2 linked regions of the Homo sapiens genome follow. The protein of the gene in region 1 interacts with the protein of each later gene in a biochemical or structural test. Each region holds a gene or a part of one and is shown on either strand. Other genes may lie near its edges.

Evidence for each region. The genes of interacting proteins can lie anywhere in the genome.
Region 2: the proteins of CASK (region 1) and PLEKHH2 interact in a test that uses a peptide from one of them, tested with the Homo sapiens proteins (one large-scale study listed by IntAct).

Annotation. Positions count from the first base shown.
Region 1 is NC_000023.11:41,518,055-41,521,554, forward strand, and holds part of CASK (peripheral plasma membrane protein CASK), read right to left. Parts: intron 2,543-3,500; coding exon 2,366-2,542; 3' UTR 1-2,365. UniProt on the Homo sapiens protein: Multidomain scaffolding Mg(2+)-independent protein kinase that catalyzes the phosphotransfer from ATP to proteins such as NRXN1, and plays a role in synaptic transmembrane protein anchoring and ion channel trafficking.
Region 2 is NC_000002.12:43,762,760-43,766,259, reverse strand, and holds part of PLEKHH2 (pleckstrin homology domain-containing family H member 2), read right to left. Parts: intron 2,033-3,500; coding exon 1,895-2,032; intron 848-1,894; coding exon 662-847; 3' UTR 1-661. UniProt on the Homo sapiens protein: In the kidney glomerulus may play a role in linking podocyte foot processes to the glomerular basement membrane. May be involved in stabilization of F-actin by attenuating its depolymerization. Can recruit TGFB1I1 from focal adhesions to podocyte lamellipodia.

The DNA of each region.
Region 1 (3,500 bases):
AATTGTGGGGCCACAGACATTTAAGTTGGCATTGCTTTTCTCCTCCTCTGCTTAATCCACCTTTATAAATATGGCAGATGGCTTAAGACAGGCATCATCAGCATCTCTGGAGATGTGGGCTCAAAGGGCAAGTGGGGGCGTGGGGGTTTCCACTAGAGGGAGGGAAGTTTCTGTTTCCCATGTGTTAGTTGTAGTTGTCTTTGTGCTTCACCAGAAAAGAGGTAGAGTGCGCACCTTCACACTAAGAGCCCGAAATTGTGGTCAGTACCATACCAGGAACGACTGTCTGGCCTTGGCATCTATCAGATTCGAATCAGTTCTAACACAGCCCTACCCAACTCTTTGAAGGTTTCTCTCTCTATCTAGTGTGAGACCACTGTTGAGCTTATCTCTGGTTTGGTGGCTTGGTCACCCCACTGTGGGGCCCATACAGAAGTAGTTCACTCAATACCTTGTTAGTAAGTTGCAGACTCATCTGGTCACTGGCAAAGAACAACATCAGAAAAAAAAAAATCGCCACCATTTAATAATAGGCGGTGGGGGGCGGAGGCGGGTATGGTGTTGACAATGTAAAAGAAGTATACTAATGCCTTCTCTGTTTGGTCCTTTAAGAGGAGCTGTTCAGCTCAGAACACACCCTGCACATCCTGCCAAGGCACAAAGTGACAAGGCCATCTAACCTACAAGAAGCAAAAAATGATGGTATGTTTTCAAGGATCACAGGTTAATATAAGCACTTCACACCCTCACATGCTAATGAAAAACATTCTACTGACCTCTGGCAAAGAGTCTGAGAACCCCAGCCCGAATCTCCTGTATTGGAAGAATGTGACTTCATGGAAGAGTTATGAGATGGTTAATGTCTCTAAAGCAACAAGGACAGATGATTCCCCTGTGCCAAGGGATACAGCAAGAGGAAGGAGAGACCACAGGTGGCCTCCAGTACACCCGTGGCCCTTGGGCGCATGGCTCTGTGCGAGTCAGACGTGGTCCAGCTGTGCTCTGGCAGGCTACTTTGTCACCCTGCCAACTGATACTCACTCCTGGGCCTTCAAAGGTTCAATGAGCATCTAACAAATTATACAATTGTAAAGATTATCAGCTTGGAAGCCTGAACAAATCTATAATGAAATGAAGGACCCAAAGGCATTTAATTATTGAACACATAAAAGGAAGTATATTTAAAAAAAATTGGTCAAACTGTCCTGTTAGTTATCATTTTAAAGGAATTTACAGGGCTGTTATAGATGATTCTTTTGGAATATTTCAGTTTATAGCAAATGCCTAAACTGGTTTCTTCATTGCACAGTATTTTCTCTTAAAATGGGTGCTTTAAAACAATTACATACAGATTAAAAATCATTTCTTTGCTTAATTAAAACGTTAATACTCTTAGACAACACAGATCTGAAATGGTGAAACCAGCAATTCCCCCCACCCCACCTTACAACAAATTAAATTGAGACAAAATTACAAACACATTTCACTACATGATTATTATTAATAAAAATCAGTTTCTTTTTTTTTATAAAGTTGCCCAAAATGCAAGGGATGTGCATAGGTTTACAACTTAGTCATAATAGCATTTTATTCTTATTCCCCTGGGTGTGCCCCATGAACGGAATGTAGAATGTACTTTGCTGTAGATTACAGATTGTTTTGTCCAACACAGACACACCGACAGCATAAACGCTCGCGACTGTCCACATGCATTAAGAGTCAAGACCCAACTTCAAATCTCTAAAAGGTTTACAGGGTGCTTCAAAGAGACAGTATCACATTATCTGGATGTTACATAAAGGACTTAAAAAAAAATACTATTCTAAAAAAAAAAAAAGAGAGAAAAAAGGCCTTTAAAAATTTATGACTGTTTTGTAATCACTACACTAATTATTTCAAATAAATAAAGGAAAGAAAGATATCCCAATATTCCAATCCATAAAATCAGACTCTAAAAAGAATGTAGTGTTCCACCCCCAGTCAAGGTAACAGAATCATTGTTTATTATTATTAAAATAGATTATAGAAAGCAGCATCTATTTTGTGCAGTTTTTAGGGGCCTTGGAAATAAAAAGCTATGATTTCCAAAAATATAACATTCCAAAGGATTGAATAATACATACATTTAAAGATACATTTTATTAAAGTTTAGGAGAACTGATTAAAAAAGATACTGTCTCTTTAAATTAGTGTGTAATTGTTTTTCTCCTCCTATCTATTCGGACATGACAATAATTATAAATGTAGGTCACACTACAACTAGGTAGTCTCTAGGGACCATGACCTGCTGACACAAGGCCGATAACAAAGAGGCTTTTCCACAAATGAGGTGCTCCCAGTTATGCTCAGATATCTGGGGAGAGGCCTAATAGACCCAGGAGACAGGGACCCACTGTGGGGCTGTGCACACGAGCTCAACAGCTTCCTCCAGATGTCTGATTGTCTCATCAATTTCATTGTTGATAATTGTGAGATCGAAGTAGTGTGCATATGTTCTCTGTAAGATGTCAGACTCCTTCTGCAGACGCTGAAGAGATTCATCCTAAATGGTGATGAGATGGAGGTAGGGGTGGGCATGAGAGGAGGGAAAAGCAAACAGAAGAGAGAAATCAGTTGGATTCGTTCTCTTTTCACATTTTTGTTCATCCCAGTGTCAGAAACAGTCAAGGCCAGACCCTGATATGCCATATGCCAGCATGAGGCCAAGTCCGCTCCATGACAGAGGAGACAGTGATTGCTCAACATGCAACAGAGGGTCCATGACAAAGCAGACGAACCAGAGAAAACAGATACTCTTCAGGAAACATGCCACCCCCACTCAGGCCTAGCTGTGCCTGTCCCCAGAGTCAGGCTTGGTAGGGCCATGCCAGGTGTGGGTTACAGTGGCTATGGTGGCCCAAACAGGCCAGCAGGAAGCCCCCCGCCCTAGCCTCAAGCCACTCTCCCAATTGGCGAGAGGGCTACGGTGGCAAGGCTGGAGCTCTTTGCCCCCGTCCCCTTGGTCCTCCACACTCACTGGAGCCAGGCCTCAGGGCCCAGCTGTGTTTGCACCAACAAGTCCCTGCCCTTGGATGACAAATTAAGTTGTATTTTTTCCTCTTCTACTTAAAGGTGCCACACGTTCTAGGAATTCAATTACATATAATGGCCCTCACTCAATAGCAGCTGATGCCAGAGGCAAAAGATCTTTGAGTGTTACAAATAATGGCTGGAATAAGGCTGTTTCCCCAATAAACAGCACCTGGCATCTGATGAATCCCCCCAAATTGGTCTGCATTAGAAGTGGCTAGACAAATGTCACTGTTCGTAGGTCCTCATATCTCTTATGAAAAAAACAGAAGGAAGAGAACTCTAGGGAGTACTGAACTCTAGGGAGGTTTGCTGCAACAAAGGATGTTCCCTAAGCTGCAGCTTGCCACAGATTTTAAGAACTCTTGTAAGAGGGATCCAACAGGAGGAGGGAGTTTAGGGTCCCAGCTTTGTCATGCAAGTATAGCTTC
Region 2 (3,500 bases), on another chromosome or scaffold:
GTTTTAAATTTTACACTCCAGTGATGTGAAAAGGTGACGGTATACTTTCTAATACCACACAGGAGGCTCAGGTTACCTAATGTTATCCTGCTTTCTCACATAATGATTCATAGAGCCGGAAGATGTACTGCACCTGCTCTGAAAATGTACTCCTCGCACCACTCTGCAGCAGTTTCTTATGCTGCATGTTCTACTCCTTTCCAAACACTATATCATTAATTAAAAGCGCATTTAGTTATAGCACTTACTATTTTGGCAGTGAACATTTCCAAATAATCAACTGGTTTACCAAATGGGAGTTTGGAATCTCCCTTTCTAAAGATTGCCAGAATATTAAAAAGGGGAAAAAAAGAAAAGAAAAGAAAAGCCACATTGCACAATGTGTCTGATGACAAGGGAGAAGGGAGATGGAAAAAATGATGAATTCTTACTCATTTACTCTATAAGAAAATTAGTGTGTTGGCAAATTTTGTGTTTATGTTTTACTGTTAATATTTATTTGAATATTTAAGAATCAAATAAAAGAGACTAACCCCCTTCATTGTTAAGGTTTGGAATACCGGTGTGTGGCTGCCGTGCTGCCAGGTGTAAACGAACTTGTAGGGAGCTGATACAGCCACAGCATGGAGGACAAGGAGTGAATGTTCAGGCTCCCCAGCTTTCAGAGTAAGGTGGGGCCTTTGGTCGGTCTGCTGCTTGACAGAAGAGGCTGGCTTCCCATCATTCTGGCTTGGGGTCCCCGGGTCTGGGCTGAGAGCAGTGCTGGAGCAGAGAGGTGGTGAAATGCTGCCTTTTGCTGATGGAAGTTGTTTATGTAACTGGCGATCAAAAGAGTGATTTCAAGAATCTAAAACAAGGAAAACAGAATTGTTTTGCTCCTTAGAAGTTCTCATCACTTCCAGAAGAGAGTAAAGTGTTGGCCACAGGTGAGCTCCATTTGCAAGTGCCCAGGCTACCAGAATTCCCTTCTCTCTAGATCAAACAATGAAGTGCTTACATGTCCAGCACCATCAAGGCAGCCACACGTTTTTTCATTACTTAAACCAGCAGAAAGAGTGAATCTCAAAAACAATCAAATTGAGTGGCATTCTTAGGAAATGTGACAGTCAGTAGTAGAACTCTATCAAATTATCATAAAGCCACATTAGTGAATATATGAATTAAGAAAGTTAGTGTCATAAGAACTCTCTATTTTCACTAAAGACTGAGCTCCCTGATCTGCACTTAATGGTTAGCTGCTTTCACTTAAGTATAGGCTTAATTAAGAAAGACATCTATTTTGTAAAAAAAGCTTCAGATTCCGAAGAAGTAATTTCTTTTATCTGATAACATTAAGACAGCTAAAGTTGTAGGAAAATCACTTTCAATTAGAATTACATGTTAGAATGTAATCCATTTATTTATTGCTTTTACTTAGAGATGTTAAAACTACACAGTTTGTTAAAAGTCGTAAAGGAGCAAGTATGTTTTAATTATAAAATCCCAGTCTTTCCTCTAATGAGTCCATAAAGCAAATAACCTCAAGTGAATAAGATAATGTGTATAAAGTACCAGGCAGCAATAACTTAATGCCACAACTATTTATTTTGAATCTTCTATATACCTGGCATTGGGCTAAGTACCCTACAAACTTCCTTCATTTAATTTTTAAGCCAAAAGAAGTAGGGAGTATGTTACCATATTTTTAGACAAAGAAACCAGAGCTTGGAAAGATGATGTAAGTTGGACCCATGTTTGTTTGACTATAAATAACGTCTGTTTTCCCATCTGGAATGCAGTCTTTGCTGAATAAATGTTTTAATATGAAAACAATTAGCATTGCTTTTTGGCCTTCTGGCTAAGACTAAGTGAAAACAACTAGGACAAAAAAGTTGGCAGAAAGGCTTCTACTCACCTTGGGTTTTGCCATGGCAAAAAGTAATTTCTCTGTTGGTTTGTCCTTTGAATGTGTATTGTTAATGACTACCATAAAATCATCTTGATAGCCTCCAAAGGTCATTAGACTCTTGTACACATAGCTGACTATTAACCTCTTTAAAGATAAGAAAAAGTATATATGTTATATGCTCTTACTTCCAAGGAGAGATGGAAAATAATTAATAATATATCTCCATTAAAAGGCAGATATTAATCAATTATGGTATAATACAAAATTATTTTCTAAAATAAAATGTATTATGATCCAAAATAGATAGTAGTGGTACTAATTTTATTTAGGCATCATCTACCTTTACAATGTTGAGTCCGAAACAAGTCACTGCAGAAAAATGAGAAAATATAAGAAAAAAATAAAAAGCATCTATATTCCAGCATCTAGTGGAAAGCCACTGTTAATATTTTTTATATGCCCTTTCATATATCTCTTATATTTATGTTAGGTTAAGCCATATTACTGATACTTTTCATGGTCAAAATGGTCAAGTATTGGTAAATCTACATAGTTCACCTAGATAGATGGATTTTGAAATCCATAAACAGAAACAGTATCACGTATTAACCCTTTGTCACATATGCAGCAAATATTTTTTTCTAATGTGTTTCCAAAACAATGTAAAAATATAACTTAGGCCGGGCCTGATGGCTCACGCCTGAGGCTGAGGTGGGAGGATCACTTGAGCCTAGCCTGGGCAACATAGGGAGACCCAGTTTCTATGAAAAAAAAAAAAAAAAAAATTAGCCGGGCATGGTAGTACATGCTTGTGGTCCCAGCTACTTGGGAGGCTGAGGCAGGAGGACTGCTTGAGCCCAGGAGGTCAAGGATGCAGGGAGCAGTGATCACACCACCGCACTTCAGTCTGGGCGACAGAATAAGACCCTGCCTCAAAAAAAAATCAATAAATCAATAAAATAAAATAAAATAAAATGTAACTAATATACAGCCTGAAAGGACTCTGCATATCTAATGATTACCTTGCAAGACTGAGCAGACCATTCCAGGACTGAATGCCTCAGACCCACCTGTGTGTGCTTCCTGGCCTGTCTGGCTACCTCCTGGGAGCTAGGGAGCTAGTTTTCTGAACTAAGGTAACTTAGTACTGGTGTATAGGTTTTTTGGTTTGTTTGTTTTTACTTTAAGTCACTGATTTTATAATATCTTCAAGTTATCCATTTAAAAACTAAAAGGCACTCAGAAAATATAACCCCTTGAAAAAAAGTGTGTGTGTGTTTGTTTTTTAAGCAATTATAAGGGGAAACAGTGACTATAACACAAAAGAATAGTTTGGTTTCCAGAAAATTTTCAGTGATCTTCTGATTATAGCCACAGGATTAGACCTGCCAGGTGAATTTAGTAATTCCTGCTCACCAGATTAAACAAAAAAGAGAATAAAATTGTATTAAATAATTAGACACATGAAATATGATAAAAAATGTAAATTTCGGGTAAATAAATGAACACATATAGATATCATAGTTTGAATTTAAACTATGTGAAAAGTGCTAAGATGCTATATAAATGACATTATAGGAAATTATAGAAATTGTTAAAGAAGCCTTAGTGA